Linked DNA regions of Homo sapiens: regions 1, 2, 3 and 5 are each linked to region 4. Evidence: fine-mapped expression QTL. A gene starts in region 4. Each other region holds a variant in brackets. All regions are shown on one strand. Distances are between the middles of the regions.

Region 1 (6,049 bases), 250 kb after region 4:
TGACTGCCTGATGTCCGTGCCCACTGGGGTTTTTCCCTTTTCAGAAAGGATTTCTCCCTGATCTCTCCCCACAAACTCTGGCTTTGCTTTTTCATTTCCTAAGAGCAACTCAATATGCATTTCCCCATCCAAGCTACCTTCCACTATTCCCCTACTGATTCTCTCTGTCATTTATATTTTTCACTCTTCTCTTCCTTTCTCTGCTCTACCCTTGCCCCTTTGTTGTCAATGAGTAACTGCTAAATGTGAATGATTCTTCTAAGTTTTATCAACCAGGACTTTCTCCCACCCAAGCATTTGTTTGTGGCTCACAGGCATTTCATCCCATAGTAGATTAACACCAGTTCTATGACAACCTGCTCTGATAGTCCCCAGTCCTTGCCCCTGTTATTTTTCATTTCTTCCTCATTGACTCTCCATAGACTCTTCGCTTATATTTTACTTTTCATATTTTATCATTTGAGCCTTGTGTTATTAAGTAAATGTCCACCTGCCATTCCAGTTTGTAAAGTTCTTGCCAATTAGAGTTCACATGCTGTTCATTTTTGCATCCTTCAGCACACCTAGCCAAGCACAGCACTCATAATAGATGTTTAACAAATGTTCATTGTGAATGAGCTCATGGACCAACTTAAATTCTATGTCTTCTGGAAAAACTCAGTTCCAATACTGCAACCCACATTGATCCTATTTTTGTATTCTCCTAGTACTTCATGTCTGCATTAGTCAATTCTTTGTTTTTAACCTAATCATATGTTCTCTTCCATTATCATTTAGCTGTTTCACATTGTGTAAACCTTTTTTCCCTCATTTTATTGTAAACATACAGAGAGCTCATAACCAGCCTCTTCGGGGACTGATGCAGTGTATTTTCCACAGAAATTGTTCAATAAATACGTGTTGCATGGAAGAATGAATTAATTAATGCATGATTTGAAGAATGAATAAACACACTCCTGTCTTTTTATCTACTGTGCAGCTTCCTGATCCTGTAGGCATGAATGCTTAGTGTCACCTAATTCTTTGCTTTTCCTCCACTTTCCAAATCAAACCAGTCACAATATGTTATTGATTCTTGCCTTTCAGTGCCTCTTAATCCATTCTGAGTGTAATAAGAAATTTTACCCATCCTCCTTCAAACATAAAGGTAAGCAAAAATCAGTTATAAATTATAAAACTAGCCCGTAGCTATTACCTATATGATAAACACATCTGGCAGACAGGTTGGTGGGTTTCATTCAATGTATTTTAGCCTTTTCTCTTTGATAATTTCTCCTTGTAAAGTGTAAGACTATAGAACAGAATCTCTTTCTGCCTTTAAGCAGCTCATTCACAGATTTATAAGATACCATTTAAAGTCAGGTGTATTAGTCTGTTTTCATGCTGCTATAAAGAACTACCTGAGACTGGGTAATTTATAAAGAAAAGAGGTTTAATGGACTCACAGTTCCACAGGTTTAACAGGAAGCATTACTGGGGGGCCTCAGGAAACTTACAATCATGGCGGAGAGCAAAAGGGAAGCAAGCACGTCTTATGCTTGACAGAGTGAGCGAGGGGGGAAGTGCCATACTTTTAAACCATCAGATCTCATGAGAACTCACTCACTATCATGAGAACAGCATGGGGGAAATCCGCCCCCATAATCCAGTCACTTCCCACCAGATGCCTCCCCTGACACATGAGGATTACAATTTGACATGAGATTTGGGTGGGGACACAGAGCCAAACCATATCGTGTAGTTGGAAATCAGTGTTAAAGAAGGATAATGTAGCATTTAAACAATGTTCACATTGGTTTTATTTATTTTTATACTTTAGTTTAATAAAAGAATTGTTGGTTTTTTCCTAGATGCACAGGTACAGGCCTAGGTGGAATTTCCATTTAGCAGAGGAAATGGCCCTTGTGGCTACTTTCGATGAAAAGCAACATGACACTTGATGAATAAGGAGTCAGCCACACACCTAGCCCCATGAGTAACCAATTAGGAAACTAATTACAGGCAAATGCTGTGCCCCATTTAGATAAGAAGAGTGGATTGCCACATTTCCAAAGTATGAGGAACACAAGGTATAACTAAACAGATTTTTAGGTAAATAAATTTGAGCAGTTTTGGTTCAATTGCAATATAATCATTAGTAGTTTTAAATAATCATGACTCTTGCTATGTAGCTATGAGAGTTTACTCATCCCTAATTGTTGACTGGCTGTATATTATTGCTGGGATGAAAAGGAAATTCTCAAGCTGCAATTAATAACTGCAGTACACATCTGAGACAATTTGTATCTACGATAAACACGTATTTGTATGTATATTTCTAAAAATGTCCTCTTACTCAATTCAAATTTGCTATTTCTTTCAATGGATTATATCAGTTTACAGTATCAATTTGACTTAATAGAGATGAGAAGACATAGGTCTTTAGATGTTCTCCATTAGTTAGATTGCTCCTTCATTTTGTGAAAGTTTCACAGTCTACCGGGTCTGTATAAATGACAGCCGAAGGGAGATTCAGGCAGGTAGGGAGAGAACATCCTAGTGATGACTAACTGGGTTTTAGAAAGAGAGCATACTTCTGAGTAATTGTTCCAAGGGAATTTTAATTAAAGTAAATTAGTGTGACCAGCTAAATCTTGCTAGGTAGTACACAGCTGAGCTGGAAAATGATATAGAGAAGTTTATTTGCTCCAGACAGAAATATTTTAAAGGCATCGGGTAAATATATAAACTAATAATGTTAATTTTGCTTCAAAAAGCAGTTCTAGACAATTCAATAAATATTTCATTCTTTTGCTGATACAATAAAGGCCAACTATCCCATCTTATGAGAGTCCAGCTTCTAATTTCAACTGAGGTTATAATGCTTCTGTACCTAATGGAGTAGTATCCTCCCTGAGATTCATAAAACCTAAATAGGAATTCCTTGAGTCCTCTACAAAATGTAAATAAAGCTGAGGCCCAAAGAGTAATGAGGCTGTAGTGACAGCCCTTGCCACAGTACTCCTTCTAGGATGCCAATCAGCAAAGGGACAAGTATGGCAGGAAGGACACCTAGTCAGTGGGCTAGTCGGGCCTCATTTGATATACGAAGGGTAATCTGTAGGCTCATATGAACTCTTGGCCTCATTC[A/G]TAAGTGTTGGCTCTACAAAGGCTTTTCTAGGCCTGGGTTTCTGCTATAAAATACAAGACATGAAACTTGAAGTAAACTTAAGAAGTAATATATTTATTTCCATAAAATGAGGAAGTAGTACAGAAAGACCCCTTGAGGGCCCATCCAGGTCAGTACCATTTCCACGCCCTGAAATGCCTCCCTCAGGGACACCACCCCTTGGAAACACAGAGAATAAGGAATGCAGTGCAAGTGTATGGAACAGGATAAAGAGATGTGAGGTCACTCCCCAGCCACAGTCATCTACTCTGGCTCTCATAGGTACTTCAGGTTTTCTGCTAAGCAGGCACAAAGGGGTTTCATTTTGAAGAATTATCCCACTATTTTTTACAGTGATGAAGGAAGGATAGGAAGTCCTTTAGAAGGGACTCCAGGAGCTGTACCAAACTCTGAAAATACTGATGATTAAGCCACATGGGGTCATCTCTTCTGAGCCTCCATACAGAAGTGAAGGGTGACAATTAAATAAGAAAAGTGTGACGATAGAGGTCTGCAGATATGAATCTGTGTGTTGGGGGACCCAGGAATGGGGCTCAAAATGAAGCCTCAGAGGCTGCAATAGGTAAGCAATGTTTCCTCAGACACAATAGGTACACCTAATGTACAATTGTTCTGGTGGGCATGTGTCCAGCATGCCCACATAGCCAGCTGGGTCTCATCTTTTGCAAAATATGGCCCTCTGGCCAGGTGGATCAGGCATGAGCAGAGAGACTATGGCTGAACTTGACGGCTCCTTGACAGATCCCTCACCCTCTTTATGGTCCAAAGCTGCCCAGTCTCCAGAGCCACAAAACCAGCCTTAGTTTAATGTTGCCTAGAGGGGTCATAGTCCAACTTTTTTAACTTCATTGGCATTCTTTTCCCAGTTGTACATTCATATCTTTTAGACCATTTCTCAAAGCACATTTTGCAAAATATCAGCATGCTAATTACCTCTGAAGTAATTGTTTAAAATTCCATTTGGGAATTGTTGCTCAAGAACAGTAGTAGTCAACTCCGGCTCCACATGAGAATCACAGGGGAAAAATATTTTTAATAGCAATTATCTGGGCCTCATACCAAAAGACACTGGTTTGATTGGTCTGGGTTATTCTAGGCATCTGAATGTGCTGGAAGCTCCCCACAGTGACTTGAGTGAGTTAGAGTCTCTTCCAACGAACAGGTGTATGTCTGGAGGCAGGTGGGCGGGATGAGGCCACCTGAGGCCTGTTGGTAATCAGGAAGAAAGTCTCCAATGCACACGGAGTACCTATTAAAAAGACTATAGGATGGTTCCTGAGCCTGGATTCCATCCTGCTGTGCTTTCAGAGGGCTGCTCTCTCTCCTTCCTTTCCAGAAAAGGGGGCCTTCACAATTTCATTCCTCTAATAGATTCTCACAATTCAGTGTGCATAAAAGTCATCTGATGGAATTTTACTAACATGCCAATTCCCAGACGTTATCCCAGAAATTTTGATTTAGTAGCACTGGGAAGGTGCTGGAATATATATTTTAGCAATTACTATATGATTTTGATGAAAGTGGTTGAGGGACCATCTTTGAGGAAACACTGCCTAAGCCTTCGCCAAGGTATAATCTGCTACCCTTGGGAATGTTCCCTGTCTTAAATTTTGGATCTAGCACCTAGTGTCTGGCCCTGGGTATAATCATTAACCTTTCTGTGCCTCAATTTCCACACCTGTAAAATAAATGAAATAAAAGTGCTTTATAGAGGTTGTGAGGATTAAAAGAAATTAAGATAGAGGTCATGGTAATGGCCTGAGGTAACCAGGTGATAGATCTGGGTAGCTTAGGGAATACGTGTGTGTGTGTGTGTGTGTGTGTGTGTGTGTGTGTGTTTTGAGACAGTCTTGCTCTGTTACCCAGGCTGGAGTGCAGTGGCACGATCTCGGCTCACTGCAACCTCTGCCTCCGGATTCAAGCGATTCTTGTGCCTCAGACTCCCAAGCAGCTGAGATTAGAGGCGTGCGCCACCATGCCTGGCTAATTGTTTTTGTATTTTTAGTAGAGATGGGGTTTCGTCATGTTGGCCAGGCTGGTCTCACAGCCCTGGCCTTAAGTGATCCACCTGCCTCGGCCTCCCAAAGCGCTGGGATTACAGGCTTGAGCCACCGCACCAGGCTGGGAATACATCTTTCTTTTCGGTTGGCGCTGGTCCTCTAGTAAGGCAGTAGCTTAATCATTTACGTGTCCTCTTTCTATCTCAGCCTTCCCACCACACTTCCCCACTCAAGGCTCACTCCAGACATTGTTAGAAGAAATTTTCCTTCTATCCATGTGATGTGTTGTAAAGAAAGACTAAAAAGTATCCAAATTGTACTTTATAAACAATTTCCTATAGTGGAGATTGATACTCAATGTATGAAGGTCAAATGATGAAGATGTACCATTAAGCCTCATCAGACTCTATTAGTTAATTTCAGTCAGCAAGTGACAACTGCACATTTTAAAACCTAGATCTGTGATGACACCCAGTGGCCAAAATGTCAACCACTGAAATTTTAAAAATACATCAAGTATTTTCATCAGCATACAAATAATATTGCATCAACTTTAAATTTTGAGAGCTATTCAATAACAAAGCATGAAAAGGTTCTACACTGGGAATGTCACCAATGAAATGTGGACAAACCAACTTTCTTTAGTACTGTATTTAGTAGAACTTTCCCAACCAGTTCAGGCAGATAAAAGCACCAGGTTATCAAAGGTGACACATTCCTAAAAAAAAAAAAAAAAAAAAAAAAAAAAAGCTTTTAAACTTGGAAAAAGTAATTTGCATCAGTATATAGCAAAGAACCAATGACCAAATGCAGGAGAGTACAACAGAGATTATTAAGACTTCACACATGGTCCTTTAAATAATTAGAAAATCATTAACAT
Region 2 (6,049 bases), 70 kb after region 4:
ACTCGTTTATGTTACCCGCTTGAATTGTGTAGGCATTTCATTTTGCACCTCTGGTGTGCTAGACTTTAAAATAATCTAAAAAGCTCGTCTGTGGATCATTTAGCAATTTCCTTAACCTTTCTGTCAGTGGTCTGAAAAAGGGAACAGGTTTGCTGCATTTGCTTAGATAGATTCTTGGCATTTCTCCAGAAAGTCTGGGGCTGGATTAAATCAATTAATTAATGAAAACATCTGTATACCTATGTGGTAGGCTCTGGAGACACTAAGAGTTACAAAGACATGGTTTATACCCTTGAGGGGCTTATTCGCTGTTGTGGAAGATGGGTGTACACAACAGTAGCTAGTCAAGTGTTACCCAGTGCTAAGGGCCTAGAATGTCTGCTTAGTGAGACGGACAGTAAGTGCAGTAGGTGTTTCTGTGGGAATGGGCAGGATGTGCATGCCAATCCTGGAAGATGACATAGGTCAGGGAAGGTTCTAGGGAAGGAAGACCTCAGGTCATATCTGAGAGTTGGCAGATCAGGTGGATCACAAACATCACTGTGCATGTGAATTGTATCGTGTAGGGCAACTTCAGATTCCTAAGCTCTACCCAGAGATCCTATTTCTAGAGGGCTGAAGTAGACCAAGAATATGCATCTTTAATATGAATTCCATGTGTCTCTGAAATATGTGAGTTACACTGTGAAAAAAGGGTAGACGATAAGCCAAGCAGGTCAGGAGAAATAAGTAAAGGTAGGAATGTGTGAAGGTAATTTACAGGCTGCAAAACTCAGTTGATTGGATGCTTGTATGCAGAGTCCTGAGAGATAATTAAGGCAGGAATACTGGGAAGAGAAGGATGCTCTGGAAATCACTTATTTTCCTTTTTATCAGTAAGAAAGGATGGCAGATACATTTTATTAAATTGGGGAAATAAAGCATCAGCAGCAGCCAGTTATTCCCAAAAGGAATATTCTCTGCTTGGCTTATTTATCTTTTAATGGAATAAAATAGTTATATATGAGACAATCAATCATGGACATGCTTTTTTTTAAATGAAAATAATAGTTAATTAGCAGGCAATTGATCCTGGTCCTGATAGTTCAGGTGCCTAGTCAGTTAAATTGGATTAACAGTTTAGCAGTCTGCTGCATTACTTACTAAGTAATTGCACACTATTTATAGTTGAAAACAAAATGGATGCCCTAATTGATACCACCTTTTAGTGTAGCAAATACTGAACTGAAGCTCACAGTTTCTGACCCAGCATCTCATACAGTGACTGGTATATGGTTAGTTGGCACTCAATAAATACTTGCCAAATGTTCTTAACTGAAACTTGCTTGGTATTTGTAGTTCTTCATTTCTGAAAAAATGGAGTTGGATTTTATTCATGGTTTTCTACACCATCAAATTCCTTGGGGTGTCTAAGTGTCACTTCCAGAAATAGAGAGACCAAGAAATTGGGGAAGGGTGCCCACTTTACCTCATCTTCTCTTTTGTGTATATGTGTGTGTGTGTGTGTGTGTGTGTGTGTGTGTATACTTTTGTGTATGTGTGTGGGTGTGAGTATGTGTACACACATTTTTTCAAGAGACAGGGTCTCACTCGGTCACCCAGGCTGCAATGCAGTGGCACAATCATAGCTCACTGCAGCCTTCAACTCCTAGGTTCAACAGATCCTCCCACCTCAGCCTCCCGAGTAGCTGGGACTACACGTCCATGCCATGATGCTAGGCTAATTAAAAAATATATATTTTTAGTAGAGACAGAGTTTTACTAGGCTGGTCTCAAACTCCTGGCCTCAAGCAATCCTCCTGCCATAGCCTTCTGAAGTTCTGGGATTATAGATGTGAGCCACCATGCCTGGCCTATATATATATATATTTTTTTTTTAAATAGGGGTTTTCTGGTATAACCTTGTCTGAGAAACAATAAAGGCTTCGATTTTGAAGCAAAGAAAATAACAGTAGCAACAGTAATAAGTTTGGAAGTCTCTGAAGTATTGAATAAATGATTTGTTTCAATTCCACGTGCATTTACCGGCCACTGTGCACAGCTTTAATACATAATCTCATGACTCATGGGGCATAAATGAATTCCGGTGTGCCTCTTGTCTGCTTGAGTTTTTTTTAGCATTCCTTGCACTTGTAGGGAATTTTATTGGACACTGTACCTGCAGACCCTTCATAGATCTTAAGGTTGAAAAATAATTTGGAAGGCAGGTAATAGAGTAGAGAAAGTAAGGAGAAGGGGTGAGGGCGAGCCATTGAAGCAGCTTTAACAGAGGTAGGGAGACAAGAAATTCAGGCTGTGTCTGAGGAAACACAGGTGCGTAAAATGGTGTGGAGGGAATATTGGGTGTATGCATAGATAACCAGCTGGTAGAAAAGAATGAACAGGAAGTTTAGGGTGTTGAGAGGTCCTGGGTGGGTGCTTCAATGAAGATCGGAAGTGTTTTTGTCTGTGGGCAAGGGAAAACATGGTACTTTTTTTTTTATTAGAAAAGTGATTTGCACTAGCTTTTGTTTTAGAAGAATTAGGATATGAGAGTGAAGGATTGATGA[T/C]AGGCAAGAACTAGAGGCCAATTTACAGCATTAAACCATTTTAAACAATAGTTACAGTGAGAGTGGAAAGAGGAGAAGAACAGAAGAGCCTCTGCAGAGGGAGGTGTTACGTAGATATTAAGAGAGAGGTGAGCAAAAATGGCTCTGAGATTTCTAGGCTGTGTTGCTGAGAAAATGTTGATCTCTTAAAGATAAAAATAACAATTATTGATCATTTACCTTGTGCCAGACATAAGTCATTTAATTCTCACAACAACTGTAAGAAGTCAGTACAGTTGTTACAAGTGAGACAACTAAGGCCCTAAGGTTAAATAACTTGCCAATTGTCATAGGGGAACATTAACAGCAGGGACTGGATGCAGGCAGGCGGGCTACAAGGTGATGCTCATCAACATGAAGATGTGCTTTCTGTATTTGGAGAAAATGAATCTTTCAGTGGTATTTCCAATGAGGGGATTGCAAGTATGACGTCTAGCAATGGCATGAAGCTTAGTACTTCCTGCTGCTGCTTATTCCGTGTTTTGCTCCACTGCTAAGATGATTGGCCCTACCTTTGAAATGTTGGGCCTGCCCTTCGTATTTCCTTCCCTTTCCATCATGAAAAGAAAACAGTTTTGAGGACTTTTAAAATGTGGTCAACCTCTGCCCTGAAGTATAGACACAGTCTTTGTCACCTTATGGTTCAGAAACAACATCAGTAAAAAATTTCAATTCATTGGGACTTGACTATGAAATGTTTAATAAATCTGCTGCATGGGCACATGAACTGATGCCACATGAGTTGTATCCAGAATAACAGATCATATGTGAAACATACAAAACACTTTTTGGAATGCTTTTGTGTTATTTTTTATAATGGATTGAGTAAGAAATTTTAATAGGCAAATAGCATCCACTATATAAATATTCACATCATTCAATTTCCAAAGAAGCATCCTGTGTAGAAAGCATAACACTGAAGCTATCCTTTTAAAATCACAATTTTATTAATAGAATGGGGAATACAAATCTTAGCAGCTTTCTGGAAATTTGTTTTCATATAATTGAAGAACAGTTAAAAGTCCTTGAGTGGTAGGAAACTACAAATATTCTATAATTAACATGTACAAATATATATCTTAAGGGAAAATTATGTGTAACGTTTTTTAAAGGGTTTAATAATTAAGTACCTATAATGAGAAGTTTTTTTTCTCTGAAATAATTGAACTAATTACCAGATATTTTCATCATAAAATGCTTACGTATGCAAAGTAAGAAAACAACTGAAATTTTAATTTGGACTGCCAAGGGGCTAGTTAAATGACTGAAAAAGCCAATACGTGTTAGTTTACTTACTGGAAAGAACCAAAACTGCTTTTGATTTGGCTGCATCTTGTTATTATTTTGTTTGTTTAGCTGGGCACCATGCTCGCTAGGAATTCGCTTGTGGGAATTTGCCAGTCCTTAACTGAAGTAATAAAGTGACTGGGGTACAGGGATAAAGAGATGTTCATGTGAGGAGTATTGTTGGAGAGTTGGGGGCTTGATTGGTGCACTGGTTAGAATGTAATTAGGTCCTGGAGCAGGGCAGTGCAATTAAATATGTTAAGGAGGGCATAATTAGGTGGGAGGCTGAATGATGTAATTACATTCATAAGAGGGGGGCTATAATTAAATATGAGGCAGGGGTGTGTATTTAGATGCCTAAGTTGAGGATATAATTAACATATGGGCAAGAAATTAAATTATGTGTGTGGATGAAGCATAATTGTGTGTGGGAGTCCAGGAGGATACGTGGGTGAGGGTATATAGAAAGAAAAGGGTCGGAATGCAATTAGATGTGTGAGTTGAGTTCTTATGGTCAAAAACTTGAGATTTTCATTAAGAAGGGCAAACATATGTTTTGACATCATGACTGATAGCAGGTGGCATGTAGTGACAGCCTTTCAGACCACTCTGAAGGCTTGCAAAGCAAACTCTGTGCTTTTCCAATATGGTTTGAGACCTGCAGCTAACACTGCTATTGATTCTTCTTGATTGTGGCACTTGGTGCCACAATTCTAAATACTGAGTGTCTGGATAATTTTTCTAGCTTTAAAACACAATTACATGACAAGGAAGACCTGCTCCCCCTTCCTGTCAAAGAGAAAAGAGTTTGGCGGGGATTACTAGGGCAAATAAACACACAAACAAGAACAACAAAACCTTCTTGCCACCAACAACCAAAACACCAATTTTTCTTTATATTGCCAAGTGTGAAAGTAAGCATCACTCTTTTAGCTAAAAGAGTATCACATAAACATAAATGTGTAACAAAATCAACAAAACTTAGTTATGATAGCCTCATTATTTTAAATTTCTAAAACAATACGCTTTCATAAATAATTTTGGCATCCTCCCAACATATAAAAGCAACAAAGCAACAAATGTAGGCTGCAGATAAAAGAGGAACTAGGGAGTGGCAGAAGGGAGCCAGGAGAAGAATGATCACAAGCAAAGTAGGTGAAAAATTACTCAGCGCATCTCAGAAACTAAGCAGTGAAGTATGGTAAGAGTGATCATAATAATCTGATATATCCTATATTAAACTTAAAACACGGAGACTCCTGTTGTCGTCTTCAAAAGCTAGAGAACATTTCGAATATCTGTTCGTTGCTTAGATAATTGTTGAAATTAAACATATTTAATTGGCCAGTAGTCTGCTTAAATTGATTCAATCTAGCACTCAATTCTCATAAATACCAGAGCCTCAGAGCCTCCTCATATCTGTTCAGGCCTTAGGTCAGTTCTGACAGAACTCCACTATTGATAAGATTCCTGGTGAGCTGGTTGCTTCGGGGATTCTGAAGTTTTTAGATTCAAAAAGAATCCGAAAAGGATTCAAGAAATCTATATTTAAGGTTAGTTATTTTTTATAACGTGGAGGTAAGGACATTGCAGCCTGCCCGCAATCTCTTGTTCTGCCCTTTAGTGGTTTTAAAGAACTTCTTTTTAATTCTTAGATTTTGATTTCATACCAATGCATGATGCTGATTTTTAAAATTGTAGACATGCCTCAAAGGCAGCCTCTCACAAAGGCTCTTGTAACTTAATTTGTAATCAGAAGTGCTCTTAATAAAATGTTGTGCATTCCTGTGAAAATTACTGTTGCATCCAATTCTCTATCCACTAAGTGGTTTACATTTTCTTTTTCTCCATGCACTTCCTACTTTTTGCCCTGCCTCCCAGACCAGCTCAGACTCTGCAACAATGAATGATTTATGGTGGTTAACTCATGTGCTTCTAGAGGTCACACAATTATCATTCAAGACATCTAGTTATGTCTGTGGGTTGGAAGATGAGTAGGTGTAAAGTCTCCTTGTGCCAGTGGTGGAGGTCAGTGCCGGCTCTGCTGTTCAGGGTTGGGGGTGGAGTCCCAGCTGGCCAGCTCTTTGTTGCTTTGTGTGGATTGCACAAGGAGAGGAGGAAGAGGTGGGCTTCGGGCTTTGAAAGTGACTCTGGTAAATGATGCTTTGTTAACT
Region 3 (6,049 bases), 85 kb after region 4:
TCATGAACAGTGGGGAAAATGGCTTGAGATGGAGCCAGAGAGGTATTGAAGGCATTGGAGTGGAGAAAATCACCTAGAGAGCATGAATAGGTGAGAAGAGCAGGGAGTCCTGAACCACCTTCAGGCACCCTCTCCAGTACTTTGGCATTAGGTGAGGCTGAAGAGCCAGCAAAGAACACAGCGAGATAGGAGACAAGTCCTTGCTGTTGTTGACTAGGTCTGTGACCTACAGTGCATTATTTTACCCTTGCTGGGGCCCAGCTTTCTAATTTGTAGGAGGAAGCGGGAGTAGGCAATTCCTCAGGCCCTTCCCATTGTGGCAACTCTTACTCTATCTATGACTGTATGAATACCGTATCATTGTAACACCGTTTATGTAGTTTAGTTTAAATTTTCAAATTGCTCTTGAGTATTATTAGTTTTTGTGCTCTTCCCAAAAATTATGTAAGGAAGAAGGAATACGTAGTATTCAACTCACAGATTCAAAGAAGTGATTTCAAGTGGCCTTGATACACGTAGAAATGTAAATACACTTCGTGCAGTACAATAAGTGTATTTTTGTATTCATGAGTGTGTATGTGTGTGTGTCATCCATTTGTGAAGATGGACGTTTACTAATGTGTAGAAGACTAGGCTTAGGCACCATAGAATGTTATCTATTGTTTCCAGTGGGCCATATTTATCACAAGTAAACAAGACTTTTTTAGCCTTATATGCAATCTGGTGTTGATATAGTCAAGTTCAGAATTAATGAACGCTTCTGATTAGAGTGCCTGGCACAGTATTAAGCATAATGTTTCTAAAATATGGGGAGATGAGGGTTGAAAGAACTCAAAGAAGGTAGCACCATAACTAGAACTATGTATGCGTATGCCTTTGATTTAATTTCAAGAATAGTTCTGTTTTATGACACATTTTAATGTTTAAAAGCCTTATGTATGTTTTAAATTATAGGAGTAATAAAAGTTGATAAATTATTTCAAAATTATTTGACCATTTGCAGATCTATTAATAAATCATTGCTTAATATGCATTTTGGGGCATGCTTAATGTATCGAGATATTATATATTCAAAATTAAACATTTAATGAATAAACGTAGATTAGAAAGCATGTCGTATGTCTGGTCCTAGACTGTAGGGTGTGTAATGGACAGATACAGTGAGAGAGAACATCCAAAAATAGCACTGCCTGTACACAGTGATATACCAGATTACAGTTCAAAGTGTCTTCTAGGACTAGGATATAATAATTTCATAATTTTCTTTGCTTAAATGTTTTCAAACACATCTTCTAGTGCTGAAAATCAATTTCCCATTTCTCAAAGTAAACATTTGCTCTGTAGCCAAAAGCAGTACTTTAAAAAATAATATCATTGAATTCAATTTATTGGGAAGATTTGCCAGACAAAAGTTAACAGGGATTGCATCCTCAAAAGGAACTGGTTGGCTTGGGGACATGAATGAGGGAACATAATTTTGGTGCCTTTTGAATTATGCTCAAATGTATGTTTTGCCTGCTCACATATACAAAAAAATTAAAGTAATTTCATGATTTTTCTGCTTTAAGATTTCTTTCTCTCAAGCCCATTTCCCACTTACTTCCACATCCCAATTCAAAGAATATTCACTTCTCATTAATTCTCTGATCAGATCTCTTTTAGGATCATGAGCACAGTTGCTAAGACACTTTAGTCATTAATATTTGTTAATTGTGCCAACAGCGATAATGCAAACTTTGAAACATTTTACACCACAATTATGCCTTATTAAAACAATTTGACTGTATTAAATGTGCCTTTTGTGTACATCTTTGTAATTATCAATTTATGAGTTGAGGAACTAAAATTATTGGTGTGCTTTTCCTGAGAGAAGAGATACAGGAAAGTGTCACAGATATTTGCACTTAGAGAAAAAGTTTACCCAGAAGAACTTACACCAAAATGTATTGTCATTATTTTCTGGAAATACATCAAAATTCATATAAAATGTTATCTTCATGGTTTTAAGCATTCACCTCTGTTCTAGAAGATAATAAATACCTGCAAGTTTTTATTGGGCTATTACTCTGTGGCAGTAAATATGAAAAGACCCAGACACATGAGCCATGGAACACACAGGAAAACAAAGTATTTACTCATGAAAACCAGTTTGTTTAATAATGACAAAACATGTTGACAGTACTCTCCAGCAATACTCAGAATTTACAGTTTTAGCGTAACATAGCTGATTCTCACCTGCTTCCAAGGGCAATTAAGATCAAAGCTTCTTTAAGAGATAAGTATCCAAATTTTAGTCTGTGTTTTATCCTGGAAGTCATCTTCCTCTTTGCAAAGATCAATTAAATCACAAGACCACAATCAGTTACCACAGCCGGATGAGCCTGGCTGTTAATGCATAAACTCACTCCCTCATGAGAATCCTCAGGAAACCACATG[G/A]GATATGGGGCAACCACTTGACTGTGGATACTTCAAGAGTAGGTTCTCTGACTTGGGCTCCACCCCCAAGGCCCCCATAATGCCCACTGTGTTTGCTTTCAGTGGGCATTCAGCAAAAGCCACTGACTGGTTAACTGACCTGTTGGTAGCTACCAGAAAAACCAGTATCTTATCACCGAAGAGCAGATAAAAAGAAGATTCTAAATCAACTGAGACAAGTTTCTGCCTAGGATGCCTTGATGTGTTGATACTCACAGGGTAAATAAGAGACAAAATCAGAGAACTTGAGCTGATCAGCTGAGTGGGTGCCTGGATACTGAGGGTAATTTGTAGGGAAAATTTAGTAGTTGGGGAACTAGCAGAGACTGCAATATTTGTAAGATATCTTTACCTACAAGTAAATGATGCTTTGGTTTACTGAAGTAATAAAAAGTTACAGATGCCCTAATGTGGTAGGAATCAAGTTAGACATATGGTTGAAGAGGAGAAATGAGGACTCAGTAATAAAAGAAAGCATAATGGAAACTATAGGCGCATTTGGCATTTTCATAGATAATAAATACATATTTAATTATTTTTGTATGCTATTTCTGACCTGTGATATTTTTGAATATTTACTAAGTGTACACATCAAGGTTGGGGAATTTTTATATTACATACCTTTTTTAGTCCTTAACAACAATTCAAGAAAAGAGGAAAAATCATTATCCTCATTTTGTATAATGGAGAAACTGAAGTCAGGCAAATGAATTAACTTGCCTAATGTTCCACAGGCAGAAAGCCATGGGATTTGAATTCGCAGTGGTCATATTTCCCATTGTAAGCATTCATAAGACATGGTGGCCAAGGAGAGCAACTGGGGCAGGGTGGGGTTTTGGGAGTGGGAGTGGGGTGGCTGTTCCCATCACCAGGGAAACATCACCTGTACTCTTTCCTTTGGCTGAACTGGGATGGTGGATCACTGCATTTCTTTGGATGATGAGCCATTATACCTTCACCAGTAATCAGCCTACCCATTGGCCACACACACACAAGTCAGACATGCTGTGATTTAAGTGAATAGTACATGGCCCTGAATGCACTCTTATAATTTTGATTTTGGAAAAAGAAAAACACAAGAAAATATATTAATTCCTCCTTGTCTTTTGAGATTTATGGGTGTGCAGAGGTACTGTAGGTCCCATGTCCTCTAGTGTATCACACTGTCCTGAGCTTTAATTCAGGTCTAAGAATGTCTGTCCTACCCTCTCAAAAATATTTTGAATGGAATAAATACCTCCTAGTTACTGTCTCTTTCTTTTTGTAGATAATTTGCCCCTTTGGCTGACATTATCTTTCTTACTAAACAGGAGTAGTTTTTATGACAGCATTTGGAAGATGCTGATAGTTAATTATTCATCCAATGTCTATTAAAAGGGAGAGGTGGTAAAAAACAAAACAAAACAAAACAAAACAAAAAACAGTTACTGGCTGGGTGCAGTGGCTCACGCCTGTAATCCCAGTACTTTGGGAGGCCAAGGCGGGCAGATCACAAGGTCAGGAGATCGAGACCGTCCTGGATAACACGGTGAAACTCCGTCTCTACTAAAAATACAAAAAAAATTAGCCGGGTGTGGTGGCAGGTGCCTGTAGTCCCAGCTACTCGGGAGGCTGAGGCAGGAGAATGGCGTGAACCCGGCAGGTGGAGCTTGCAGTGAGCGGAGATCACACCACTGTACTCCAGCCTGGGCAACAGAGCGAGACTCCATCTCAAAAAAAAAAAAAAAACAAAAAACAAAACAGTTACTCGTGAATTCAGCTAGAATTAATAACATTTCTATTTGTATTATTCTAACTGATGATTTAAAACTATGCAAATTGTTCCAAAATGTTTGTTCTTGTTTCTCTAGATGCAATCTCCCTCCTTTGTCAAGTGAATACACTAAGGATGTTGGATCCAAAAGTCAGTTAGTGACAGCTAATCCCAGCATAATTCGGCAAAGGTAAGAGTTTATGACTTCTGTTTGTGACGAACGAAGATGAAGTCTTCTCAAGTACTTAGCATTTCAAAGGCAGTGAGCATAATTCAGTTTGGGAAATCAAGAGGAAAACCATCTGGACAGGCAGGAAGGATGAAGGGAATTGTAAATAAAGAAAACAGGATTATGGGAATCCAAACAATATTTTATGCTTCCTCTGGGATTCTGTTTCTTGCCTTTAGAGATGATAGAAATAACAAGAAGATCAATTGTTTTGCTCAAAGAACAGCACAATACTCTGTTTACTCATTACTGCTACTTTTCAATTTGTTGGCTTCAGTCCCAATTTATTGATTGGCAACTGTGAACTGAATTAATATCAAGAATAAAAACAAAGCAATGGCCAATCCATTACATTGCTTTGGCCAATTCATACATGCATTAAAATAGCAATATTGTCAGAATGGACAAGAATATGTGGTTATAGTATACTGTATTACATTACATTATATTATATTCAATCATATTTGGGAGAGCAGATGTAAAATTCTTGTTCTAGGATCAATTCCAGAAATCTTGAAATTGCCTGGAATCTTGGAAGCTGCTGTGGGAGCTGCGGGGGTGGGGGAGGGGGTCAGTCTCTAATTGATGAAGTGCATCAGCGAGCTATCAGCTGTTTCTCCAAGGACTGTTCATTGTAGAGAAGGAGTCCGTCTCCAAGGAAAGAGGAATCAAGCATTGCTTTAGGTCCTCCTGTGTCCCTGGCAATTAGGAGGGAAACATCCAGATGTTCTGGGCCCAGGCGCTTGTCATCTAAGTCCCGTCCAAGTGATCAGCATGTGTGTTCACTTATTCACAACGTGGCACTACTTGTTTTGGTTCATAAGTATTCCCATAAAATAGATATCTAGAAATGCAATCAGCTTTTAATTTTGGGAGATATTGTTAAATTACCCTCCCCAAATGTACCATTTATCTTCAATAATGGATAAGACTGCTTGTTACCCATATGTAAAACAATACTATTTGTGGAAAAAAAGGATACATTATATTCTACTTAATTTGCATTTTTCTGAATATAATAAGAGCTGAGTGGTATTGACTATTAGTATTTTTTCTTCTGCTCCTTTGTATTTTTTGCCTACTTTCGACTTGCTTTAAAAAATATTTTTCTATTGATTTATAGGAACTCTATATTATGGATATTAAGTCTTTGTATCAAATATTTTATTCTAGCCTGTCACATATATTTTAATTTATATTCTATTGCAATTTAAAATTTTTTATGCGATGAGACTTGTTAGTATTTTCCTTTATGGCTTCTTTTATAAAAACAATCTTTCTTTGGATGATCTTTCTTACTCTGATGCTCCTCCCTTCCCTGAAAAAAATATCCTGAATGTTTCTAATGCATTTATAGTATATATTTAGAAATGTAATCCATGTAAATGTATTTATTTTTGTTCTTATAAGAGTAATTTTATTATTTTTCAACACAAATGTATGTTCATTATAATAACTCAAACAGAAAAGTACAAAGAAGAAATAAGAGAACACTTACAAGAAATTTTTTTATTAAAACAATTTATTTTTAAATACCTGTAGATTCACAGAAAATTGCAAAAAACAATTTACAAGAAGGCTCTACATAATCT
Region 4 (6,049 bases):
TCTTCTTTTAGTGAGGTCACAATAGGGAGTGGAGATAAATAAATGCATTTATTCAGATAAACTATATTTATAACCTTTCTCAATCTACAACCTTATTTACCTTGGTGTTGTAATTGGTTGTGAAACAGGCATCATTTTATGCTTTTGACTGGCCATTCCAAGCCATTCTGACAAGAAGAACTTGAGCAGAGACTGAAGATTGGCCTTTTAAAATTTTATCTCAAATCACTGACAATTCTGTTTAATCTGGACTCCTGCCTTTACATTTTTCTACTACACATTTATAGAGTTTTAAAAGTTGTTTAGTCCCTGAGGAAATCCTGTTTGTGTCCGCTAAGCATACTCAGATGCAGAAGTATAAAAGAATACCTAAGCTACTTACTATAAGTCATACAAACAAGATGGCTAAATATCAATTAAAATATTTTATTTAAAACATTAAAACTTGGGGGTTCATACTTTTCCTTAAACAGTGATGCCTTGGCAATAGACTGAATAAGTTTGAGGATCTCATTATAAAACCAAGCAACAATTATTTGTTGAAGTGCCTGAGTTGATACCTGGAGGAACATGAAGAAAATGTGAAATATTGTTCTTGCTCTTCTCCTAGACACTTAGCCATGCCCTGTGGAGTCCTAATTTGATCAAAAGCACAGGCTTTTCATTTGATACATAAAACTAAATCCCCTTCCTGCCTAGTTGGTGAGACATAGTTATATATGAAAAATACTAGCAATACAAGACAACACAACACAACTAAGTGTTTAATCATCAGTCAGAGCCAGCAAATACTATGACATCAGAACAGGAGGTCAAAGAGAGTAGAAGCAGATACCACAAATATTTATTGAGTTCTCATAAAGTCTGTGTTTTAGGTGTCCTGGGAACACATTATTGAATGAGAACTTTCTAGATAACTTGGCTTGGTCTTGAATAATGCACTGGATTTATACATGGGGAGAAAAAGAAAACAAAAACAAACACACATCACATGAGCGGATCACAACACTGTGACAGAACTGAGACCTGTGTGTGATATAGTTTGGCTCTGTGTCCCCACCCAAATCTTATCTTGAATTGTAATCTCCGTAACCCCCCTGTGTCCAGGGTGGGACCTGGTGAGAGGTGATTGGATCGTGGGGGCTGTTTCCCCCAGGCTGTTCTCATGATAGCGAGTTCTCACGAGATCTGATGGTTTTATAAGTGTTTGACAGTTCATCCTACACACACATTCTCCCTCTTGCCTGCCACCAAGTAAGACATGCCACTTTGCCTTCCACCAGGATTGTAAGTTTCCTGAGGCCTCCTCAGCCATGTGGAACTGTGAGTCAATTAAACCTCTTTCCTTTACAAATTACCCAGTCTCAGTGGTATTCTTTATAGTAATGTGAGAACGGACCAATGTAGTGTGACTTGGAAGGGTGAGAGCGATGACCTGATTAGATTTGGTGCTCATGTTAAGAAAAAGCAGGGAATAAGTTTGGATTGTTGGGTGGGCAGAAGCCCACCAAGGTAAGAGAATTCTTAGTTTGCAGAAGAAAGAAAAACAGCACATTGTGTCACACAGATCTTTTGATGTAAAGCATGACTTTAATGCATTCTTATGATATTATATAGGGAAACATTTACATAGCCCCTTCATAACTGTAATATGCCCTAGTTTTGTTTGTCAGTTTATTTCTTTGTTATTTACTCTACAAATAGTCCTTGAACTTGAGGAAGAAAAATGGGAATGGTTTGTGTTTTACTTAAATTATAAGATCAAAGATGGCAGATGATTTATCCAAAGCCCAGGCAAGTAGGAAAAGCTCCCCCTTCCCTTCCCCTTTTCCAGGATAGAAGAGAGTTGGCTGGTTACTTTGCAGGACTTAAGATGATCTTCATTTTAAAGAATCTGTATCAGCCTCCACTGTGGTAAGATGTGACTGGGATTTCAAGGTTTCCCCTGTCTCTACTGATTTACCTAAGTAGGACAGAGATTTCTGGGGCATGCCTGCCGGTGGAGGGCAGTAGGTCACTCAACTAAGAGCACAGTATTGTTGAGAAAATGACACTAAAGTGGTCATCTGGGATGCTACTTCGCTTTTGGTAAATAACTTTGCATCAACTTCTCAAGTTCCACCTCTCAGTGGAGACGGATGCTAGACAAAGGTACCAGACACCGCAGCCTGGTCGGCTGAACAAATGGAGTTATAGCCTTAGATTTTGTTTTCGTGATGACTAAGCTGACCAGGTTTCTTCTTTGTCCTTGCACACTTTATGCTTGACGAGATGCTTAAGCAAATAGAATAGGCGACCGCTAGGAGGTACCCGAGCTATGCGTCGGCCGCCGGGGCGAGCAGAAATGGCTAACAGCGACTCTCTCGGCTCGGTGGGTCAAGGCGGGTGGTGCTTTTCCAAGGTCGGGGTTGCGATAAGCTTATCGCTTATCACAAGCAAGAAGGGCAAGAAGGACGTCTAAGAACCAACGGTCCTTTAATCTAAAAGGCCGCGCGCCTCCAAGGCAATGTGACATCTTGAGGTCTAGTGTTTGGGCACCAGCTGCCTGCACATCTGGATGCAGCACTTCCTTTCAGGGAGGAGGCGAGGCGGAGGACCCCGGAGTGCACGCACCTCCTCGTGCGCGCGCTCGCTTGCGCCCGTGAACGTGTGTGTGTGTGTGTGTGTGTGTGTGTGTGTGTGTGTGTGTGCGGGCGCGCGCGCACACACACGGGCCGCGGCTCCGGGACCGGCTAATGGGGGTGGGGGCCCAGGAAGGAATAAATCTCCGCCAGCCTCCTCGCGCCTGGCTGCGGGTTAATATCCAACCAGCTAGAGAAAGACTAGGGTGACGGCAGCAGGGTGACAGCCTGGGCACACCGGCCGCTTGTCGAAGGATCAGGATATTAGCCAGTCTCCGCCACACTCAGGGACTGATATATTTCTATTGGCGGGGGGCTGTTGGTTTTTATTGTCTGCCGTTATCTCCAAAGAACAAGGGCACGAGTGAGGGGTGCGCGCTCTGGGCGAGTGTCGCGGCTCGGATCGGGTCGAAGGAGGCAATTTTGCGGGTGGGGGAGGGAGGGGGAGACCTTGATTTCCACCAATCCCCGGGCGTTTGTCTGCGAAGTCCGGGGCGCAGCGGAAGGCTGCGGCGCGCCGCTGAATTAACTGATGAGAGCGAGTTCTTTTCTTCTCCGGGAGGGGTGGGGAGCGAGGGTCCCGGCGGGCGAGGCGGAGGAGCCCGGGGCAGGATAGCGGTCCCGGGCCGCCGTGGAAATTTCCAAGGACTTGGTGCGGCGCAGAGAGCGCGTCTCGGGGCGGGGTGGGGGGGGGGGGGTTGCCTGGCGGCGCAGCAGCGCGGGAGGCGGCGAAGGGCGCAGGAGCATCGCTCGGAGGGGACAAGGGGACGCCACGGGCCACATGTTTAGGAGGGAGCCGAGCCTTCTCCCGGACCCTCGCCGAGGGCGACCGTGATGCTGCAGAACCGGCGGGAGCGACTCGCCGCCGCCGCTCTCTGCGCACTCGGAGACCCCAGCGCCCGCCTTCTGCAGGGGAAGCGACCATGGCCATAGATCGTGACTTCACCCCCAGCCACTTCCCCTAGAAAGAAATCCTTGGAAAAGTTGCATTTGAAAAAATCCTTGCGCTGACCTTTGGGGCCGACGGGGCCGAAGAAGCGTGCGTGCGTTTGCAAGTAAGAGAACCAAAGGTGTGTGTGCATGGGGGGCTGGCGGTGGGGGACCCTCCGCTGCCACTTCGCCTAGCTTTGTGCTGAGGCCCCGGCCCCCGCCCCTGGGACGCCGGGGCTGCGATGAGCCCCTGCGGGCGGGCCCGGCGACAAACGTCCAGAGGGGCCATGGCTGTACTGGCGTGGAAGTTCCCGCGGACCCGGCTGCCCATGGGAGCCAGTGCCCTCTGTGTCGTGGTCCTCTGTTGGCTCTACATCTTCCCCGTCTACCGGCTGCCCAACGAGAAAGAGATCGTGCAGGGGGTGCTGCAACAGGGCACGGCGTGGAGGAGGAACCAGACCGCGGCCAGAGCGTTCAGGTACTCCTGCCCTCGCGGCTCCTCCCCTCTAGCGTCCTTTCCTCCCCGAGTGCAGAGGACAGGGTCACCGGCGAGGACCGCCTTGCACCGTCTCGCAGAGGCATCCCTTTCATCCGCTCTTCCATGTCCTTTCCCTCCATTTGTGCCATTCCCAACCTGGAGACTTTAGTCAGGGTTCCTTCCCCACCCCTGATCCCCAGAGATGTGCAGACACCTGCTTTGCGCATGTAAAGACTCGACGCATTTCTTCCCAAAGCGGAGTTTTATTTAACAATTTACGGATAAACAAAACAGAGGGAAGGAGAACCCAGGATAACTTAGTCTCTTGCACTTAATAAGAATTTACCTCTTGGGCTCTGCAGACATTTGAAGCTGTAGGGAACAAGAAGCAGGTAAAAGGCATCTCCCCGAGGTGGAGTGCACAGTCGGTAACATAAGTCCCCAACGTCGGAGTGATGGGCAGTGGAAACATGGACGGATCCCGCAGCTTTGCGCAGTGTGCCCACAGCAAGTGCATAGTACTGACTGACGTCTACTAAGAGACGATACTGTGCAATTTTTGTGTTGAAATCTCGAACAGCTGTCTAGTATTATTATCTCATCTTGTTGACCACAAATTGATTCTTTAGAAGGATGAGTAACTTCCCCAAGGTCATTACTTTTGACCTGTGGGTGCTGGATTTTTCATCACTTAAAGCTCCAAAGCTCCCAGCTCTTTTTATTGGCTTAGGCTGTGGATGCCTCTGGAAGATGGGAGATGTACTTTAAGTAGGCACCTGAAGTCAGAAAACAAACAAAATGCCCAAGCCAGGTTGGAAATCAGAACTCTGAGGATCACTCAGAGGTTGTAGATCCGCTTCCTTTCTGGGAATTTTAGATTAAATGTCTAAAAATAAGTTACGGCAGCAGGGGTTGTGTAGTTAGATTGGAGGGAAGGCAGAGCTGCTTCCCCTTCCTCTCCACCTCCCCAGGCATGTTGAGGGAACACACGGGTGCTTCCACCACTGCGAGGTGCCCCTTTCACCTTTAGTCTCTGGGGCTGAAGATGCTGCTGTTGGCTTCTTCCTGTGATTGTAGTGGTCTGGGTGGTTGGAAATGATCTCCTCTGCTCTGTAGAGGATCTTTCTAATCAGTGCAAGGGCAGGTGAGTTCTAATGTAAACATTTTTCACTGCAGTTATTTACAAATATTCAGGAGCATCTATACATTTTTAAAAACTTTTTAAACATATGGTTTCCATCTCCTTCTCAGGCCTCCTCCTGGAAAGAGGATTAAAAAGATAACAGAGCCAATTTGTTTAGAGGAAGGCAACTGCATTCTCCTTGGAAGGGAGGACTTTCCTTCTCCCTTTTTAGAACTCTACCATCATTGAATTTAAAAATAACCTCACTCTTCCTAAAAGTATCTAAGGGTTAATTTTTTCTTTCCTTCACAGTATTGATTGTGGGACTCAAGAGCAGGCAAAAGGCATCACATCCAGCAATTATTTTCCCTAAAGACAGAAAGCACTTTCATTTCAAGTGATCTAAGGAAATGAGTTAAGAACTTCCCATTGGTTTGCAATGAAAGAGTCCATTTTTTTAATATAGGAGGAGGAATAATGAAGCCCTCTTAGAGGATAGATTTCTTGTTGGAGGATACAGTCAAGTGGAAAATGCTTCAAATTCTGAGACACACAGGCTGATAGTTTCTGAGACACATTTGTTCCTTGCTTTCTGTAGCCTGGAGTAATTTTCAGTGTGTTTGGCTGTTATCTGGTCTGGTCTCTATGTGCAGAGAATTACTTATTAAAATCCACACACTATGAAAACTACCTAAACACATATCCCTCAAAGTTAGTGGCTGTAAAACCATGTAAAAGGCACCATTGCTTATTGAAATAAGTTTGAGCTTCAGAGTAGAATTCTGAATTTCTACACTGAGTATGCTGTGACTAGATAAACAGCAGAGAATCTTTGGCAAGTTAGTATATTTTTTGAGTCCTGGCTTTCTTGTTTATCTACATTGCAGAGTTGTTAGA
Region 5 (6,049 bases), 21 kb after region 4:
TAGCTTCTTAAAGGAAAGATTTCTGGGTCATGAGACAGCACATTTAGATTTACACTGATATTTATGAATTGTGTTCCAATTGAAGTCATCTGTTTTGTGACCAAGAGTGTATGAGAAAGCCTGTTTTTTTTTCCCGATACTGAATGTTATCAACTTTAAACAATTTTGCCAATATATAGGTGAAAAATTATAATTGTATTGATGAGTGAGACTCAGCTCTCTTTTCCTGCGAGGGGCACATTCATGTGTCTTAGCCACTTTCTTCTTGGGTGGTTCATCTTTTCTTTTTTGATACTAAGTGTTCTTTATTTGTTAAGGGAATGTAGTAGACGTTTTTGTCACATCTGTTGCAAATATTTTTCTCAATTTGTCTTATGACTGCTTACGTTTATGTTTGAATTTTTTTTCCATAACGACTTTAAAAATTATCAGGCAATCAACCTCATCAGTTTTTTCTTTTATAGCTTTTGAGCCTTCGAGTCATGAATCGTGCAGCCCAAAACATTTTCATCTGGTATTTTTATGATTTAACTTTTTGCATGTAAATTTGAGATCTATCTGTGATTTGTTTTAGTATAGTGAGGTAGAGATCCAACTTTTTCCACAAGATGTTACTGAAACAAAAACAAAAACAAAAATTCACCTCTCCCCACTAATTTGTAATGCCAAGTCCATCCATTCTAGATAATCCAATATGTGTGGGTCTATTTCAGAAGTCCCACTTTTCTTCCATAGTTGTGTCTCACTTGTTCTTTTCTAAAGCCATACCATAGCTTTATAGTACATTTTAATATATGCTGGGCCAATCACTGTTTCTTTGTCAGAATTTTCTGTGCTATTGTGTCATATTTTTCTCTCAGATACAATTAAGATTGTTTTGCAAGTTCAAATGATTCTTGTTGAGATTTTTTATTTGAATTTCACTCATTTATATGTTATTATTAAGAACTGAAACTTCTTGTTTAAGAATATTTACTTGTATATTTAATTCTTATTTTATTTTCCTAAACAGAGTATTTAGTTTTTTTAGAATTCTATCTTTTTTAAATATTTAATTTAATTTTATTTTAAGTTCTGGGCTACATGTACAGGATGTGCAGGTTTGTTACACAGGTAAACGTGTGCCATAGTGGTTTGCTGTACCTATCAACCCATCATCTAAGTTTTAAGCCCCTCAGGCATTATCTGTTTATCCCGATGGACTTTTGACTCTAAGAACAATGATTTCACCATACAGCATTGCCTGTCTGTGAGGGGAATTTTTTTTTTTTTTTTTTTTACATTAAGGGGTTTGTGAATGTGAATTTATTTGCTTGCCCTAACTACTCTTATCTCTTCTGGATTGTTCAGAGGTGTTTAGTTCCCTCATTACTTCAAGGTTTGCTGCTGCATATTCTCCTCTTGCCCTTCACTATAGGTTCTCGGTTTGAAAGGAAACACAGCTCACTGTGAGATGCTTAAATCAAAAGAATCTGGTTTCTGGAAATGTCATTATTTTAGGAGGGAGCACGGGAGGTAGAGAAGGAAAATAGTTTAGATTCTTGTGGGGAAATGGAAAGCAAGAGGAAAAATAGATGTTCTGCTCAGAAAGGAAACTTCTCTAGGTTTTAAAAATCAGTACGTGTTAATTTTGCTATATTTTCTCTAGCAGTGGGATTACTGCATGAATCTTACTGGGAGAAAGAACGGTTGCTCTAAACCAAGTCCTCTGTCAGTGAAGCACAGGTCTGTGATGGGTGGTTGGGATGGGGATGAATAAGGAGTAGGAAAAATGACAGAAATAGACGCTTCTTATTTGCAAGTGATAGAATTTACAACTCTGTTTAGCACTTTTTTTTTTTAAATTCAACGAGTCATTATTGAGTTTCTACTATGAGGACAGCTTCAAGGGAGAATATAAAGAAAGTGTAAGGCATAGTCTCTGATCTCCAGGTAATTGTAACTAGTGGGTCAGACAATTAAATGCTGGTACTTGGTAGCAGAGAGGAGTGCTGAACTTAATCTTGAGGGTGAGTGGGATTTGAATTGGCAGAGAAACAGTCATGCATATTCTGAGCCTGAGAAAAATCTGAGAAATGGTTTTTGGTTGAGAGTTAGCTGAATGGTTGGTTTGAGCAGCATTATGTGAGTGGGAGAAATGAAAGAAAACCTTGGGCGGTTAGGATGAGCTTCAGTTGGAGTTTGAGAGTTATCGTCAGCTCTGGAGTATGTAAGTAACATGGTAACTGTGATTAGGAGCATGAATCTGGGAGAAGTACGCCTGGAGCCAGGGATGTGAGTTAAGAAACAGTCATGCCGAGAGCCCAGTCTAGAGTACAAACAATGGGAATGGCATAGAATGGGCAGATCTAACAGACACAACAGAAAATCCTCCAGAATAAGGAAATGATTTTGTAAAGTTTGTGGAAGAGAAGGAAGATACACAATTCAATACTGGACAGGTTTGACACTACTTGGGTCCTCTTGCTCTATATCATGGAATGTGGACCAGAACTGAGTTTTCTTCTGCTAATTGAGCCAGTTATTCCATTTTTTTCTTTAAATTTTTCTTTAAATTGTTAGATAGGATTCTTGTTGTGTTCCTGTAGGTTTTATCAGTTATGCACTGAATTGTCTTCAAGTGATCCTCCCAGTAGATGCTCTGGTGACTGAAAAGTTAAAGCTATCACCATGATGGCATACGTTGAGGAGGAGGTTAAACACTGTGTTAGGAGGCATACTGGCTGGCTTTCTTCTCTCTGGGTTAACATATTTTGGCCTTGTGGGATAATCATGTTTGAGAGTTCTTTGATGGCTAAAAACATACCGTGAAGGGTAGTACTAGTGAGCATGGAGGAAGGAGGGGGAGAGTGCAGGGTTTCATGTAGCCATGTTGTCAGTTTCTCTGTCCTGTCCCATTTTGCAGCAGCTGTTTGTACATGTGGTGGGATTAAGCTAGCAGGAGTCTGGATGGATGGGGAAAACAGCTTCCTTGACATCCTTAATTGCCTCCTTTATCCCTCCTCAGACAAAGCAACTCACGGTTTTAAGGACCACAAAATGCTTATTCCAAATGCACCCCTTACCCTACAACAAACCCAAACATAGACACACCTACATGGAACAAATGCAACCAAAATATTTTTTAAAGAGATAGACATTTTAAAGAATGAAAATTTCTACATTTGCATTATGAGCAAATACCAGGGCATAAGTTGAACATATCTGCTGGTGTCAGGTATCTGGACACTGATTG[G/T]TCAGTCCATATGGCCTGGGGCACCTTCCTGCTGGCAACACATGCTCATGGCTCCATAGACATTCCTGGCATGTTCCAGATATAGCAGTACCTGTGTGAAAGTTAAAATCATTAGCGTAAAAATTGGTAAATTGGCTTTATGCATAAATTCATCAATATGAGTGCAATTAAGTATACGTTCCAGTGATTCTTTTTTGTTGTTGAACATCGAGGGTATCCAGCTTAGTTGTCTAGATTCACTGAAATAGGTGACATTTGTGGACAAATGTTTATCCAGGCCCTTTGGCACAGGCTAGAATCCTCTTGCTTCTCATTTTGAGTGTATTTGGCCATTATCCCATTTTCTATGCCTCATGGTTTCTGTGTGGAGATAACTCCTCCAACATTTGTTCTGTTCCTTTCCTATTTCCTTCATTGGCAAAACTCAAGTGTGTTTATTTGGTAGCTTGACTGCGCTGAGCTTTCTTGCCCTTTTATCTTACCTGTTTTTACTGTTGTTGAAAAAAAATGAACTTAAATAATACTACTGCTGCTAATGCCTAAGTGGTTGAGAAATGTGACAGTTTCCATGCAAAGGGGTTTATATGTATGAGCTTTATTAGTTCTCTCTACTAATGTATGAGGGAGGTACTATTTAATTTCTATTGTGCAGTTGCGAAAACTAAGGCTTAGAGAGGCTATGGAACATACTCAAGGTCTCATATGTAGTAGGAGATAGGGCCAGAATTCACATTTGGTATGGCCTGCCTCCATGAGCTCGGACTCTACCAGCGCATTTATAGATGATTCATATTTAAACTGTAAATTTTACAGATATGTCTCAAATTTAAAAGTTATTCCAAAATTATGGCATAAAATATCAATGTAAATTATCATCTCTGTATACCAAAGGGTTAGACCAGTAATTCACAAGAAATGAAAGTTTTTTGCTAAGCTAACTAAAAGTTCTGATTAAAACTTTTAGAAGACTTCGGCATTGAAAAGAATATGGTATACTCAGTTTAGTAAAGTTTTGCTTGTGTCCATCGGGACCACTTTAATGCTTTTAGGAATTTAAATACCAAATTATTTTTACAAATTTATTGTTTTTTTTTTTTTTTCATTTCCGTGACGCCCCTACTTGGTTGCCACACCAAATACAAACAATCTGCTTTTGCTTAATCCAGCAATGACTAATTTATATTTACCAACAAGAGCAATAGCAATTGAAAATCGTAGCCAAGTCCCCATAACACTAATGATGCACTGAAAAAACATGTCTTTTCCGACAATTGTGGGAATTTCCAAACCGTGCATGTGTCTGTGCACAAAGGAAGCATTGTTCTGTTGCCAACTGCTGCTCAGCAGCCAGGCTTCTTTGGAGAATGTTGAATGAGAATCCTTGGTAAACTCTCACATGTGGCAGTTCTGGTGTTTGAATACTGAATTTTAATAACTCTTAAAATTAACTTAGTAGATTGCTACTAGGTGGTCCTCCATCACAAATAAAAATCAAAGTCTGGGGAAAGATGTGCCATTCATTTATTAGAACCTAAGAAGTGTCTTTTGGTTTTCTTCACTTCATGTCCTATTCTAGGACCCTGGTAGGCAGTATCCTGGCCAAAGGTGATCCAGGAGAAAGAGCCAGGAGGGGAGATTTTAACAGCTGGTTAGTTTATACGTTTATTTAGAGGAGAGGGAGGGTTTTATTAATGTTAACCCTCTACCTTTGGGGCAACACACTAGAATTTATGGGGAACATCATCAGCTCATCTCAGTTGTGGTTTATGTACCCACAAAGCCTGGTAGGTTGGGTGCTTATCAGCATCAACATTTTAGAAAGGAGCACCAGAGAAAAAGTGTAGGGGACTTGCCCACTGACTAATTCCTCAATTTTGACAGTCACCTTCATCCTTTTTGACTATGGGATGAAGCCTAAATTTCCTAGCCAGCCATTTAAAGTCCTTTGCAATGGAGGTCTTGCCTACTTTATGCAATTAATCTCCTACATAAACTATTATTGTTTATTTGCTTGCTGTGTGTACTCTGCTGATTGATCGTGCCAAGTACTGGTGATTCTGTTGATGCATCATGCACAGTTTCCCAAATTTAGGATTTAATGGGCTAGAGAATTGCCAAATAAATAAAAACATGAATAGTGTTGATGATTTTGTATTACAGCAATAAGGAAATTATAAAATACCACCATTTCATTGAAGCCTTTATATGTTAACATTTTAAAAAGTAGAAAGGACATCATCTCAGAATAAAGACCACTAATTAAAATAAACTATGAAAACCTCACACATTGCCTATATTTTCCTCATTTTGCCAGAGACAATTGAAGAAATAGCTGTGGACTGGCACTGGCCTGTGGTGTTTGGGAATGATGTTGCTTAGCCTTTTGCTTGTCTGAATAAATCCTTCTAGTCCTTCGATTCTCAGTTTACACCTTGACCTTAGAAATTCTTCTATCCCCCTCTACCTGCTGTCTTGCACCCCACCCACCCTTCCAATTATCTCTCTAGGTGGCAGTCTGTGTGTCCTCTTCCAAGTACTGATAAGATGTGCTGGGATAATTTGCTGCTGTCTCTTGCCACAAGACCATGAGATTCTTATGGACAGAAACTGCATCTTATTCACCTTCATTCCCAAAGTTTAGCACGTAGTCTTTGACACACACTCAGTGCATAATAAGTAGTAGGTGAATGAATGAATGAGTGATTACCTGGATGCCCTGCCTGTTCTTTGTGTTTTGCATGTCTTCTGTGACCTGCAGTTTTGAGCACATGGGATTTATTGAAACAAACACTAATATTCATTAAATTGAATTAA

Which allele goes with the higher level. Alleles are on the strand shown, and positions count from the first base shown. SD is a standard deviation of normalised expression in the study named. Not every link is listed here.
For the expression in subcutaneous fat of the gene that starts at base 3,319 in region 4, allele C in region 2 goes with a lower level than allele T (moderate effect, 0.48 SD a copy in TwinsUK).

Evidence for each region. PIP is the estimated chance that this variant, and not a neighbour inherited with it, causes the effect.
Region 1: its variant is fine-mapped to the expression of ST8SIA1 in whole blood (INTERVAL, PIP 0.91).
Region 2: its variant is fine-mapped to the expression of ST8SIA1 in subcutaneous fat (TwinsUK, PIP 0.95).
Region 3: its variant is fine-mapped to the expression of ST8SIA1 in whole blood (TOPMed, PIP above 0.99).
Region 5: its variant is fine-mapped to the expression of ST8SIA1 in cerebellum (GTEx, PIP above 0.99). The same link has a PIP of 0.9 or more in cerebellar hemisphere.

What each region holds. Positions count from the first base shown.
Region 1 is chr12:22,082,962-22,089,010 of GRCh38, reverse strand. No RefSeq gene overlaps it. Among named protein-coding and RNA genes, the nearest start is that of CMAS, 40 kb to the right of the region's middle. The variant A/G (reference allele first, on the strand shown) is at 3,130.
Region 2 is chr12:22,262,323-22,268,371 of GRCh38, reverse strand. All of the region lies in intron 2 of ST8SIA1 (ST8 alpha-N-acetyl-neuraminide alpha-2,8-sialyltransferase 1), which reads left to right. Among named protein-coding and RNA genes, the nearest start is that of ST8SIA1, 69 kb to the left of the region's middle. The variant T/C (reference allele first, on the strand shown) is at 2,550.
Region 3 is chr12:22,247,375-22,253,423 of GRCh38, reverse strand. It overlaps ST8SIA1 (ST8 alpha-N-acetyl-neuraminide alpha-2,8-sialyltransferase 1), which reads left to right. Exons shown (of 5, transcript NM_003034.4): 4 at 4,326-4,418. Among named protein-coding and RNA genes, the nearest start is that of ST8SIA1, 84 kb to the left of the region's middle. The variant G/A (reference allele first, on the strand shown) is at 2,437.
Region 4 is chr12:22,331,977-22,338,025 of GRCh38, reverse strand. ST8SIA1 (ST8 alpha-N-acetyl-neuraminide alpha-2,8-sialyltransferase 1) reads left to right here and starts at 3,319. Exons shown (of 5, transcript NM_003034.4): 1 at 3,319-4,029. The coding sequence starts at 3,794. LOC105369151 (a long non-coding RNA gene) reads left to right here and starts at 4,036. Exons shown (of 2, transcript XR_931426.3): 1 at 4,036-5,173.
Region 5 is chr12:22,311,000-22,317,048 of GRCh38, reverse strand. The region is part of intron 1 of ST8SIA1 (ST8 alpha-N-acetyl-neuraminide alpha-2,8-sialyltransferase 1); the gene reads left to right. LOC112268093 (a long non-coding RNA gene) reads left to right here and starts at 1,103. Exons shown (of 2, transcript XR_002957409.2): 1 at 1,103-1,725. The variant G/T (reference allele first, on the strand shown) is at 3,236.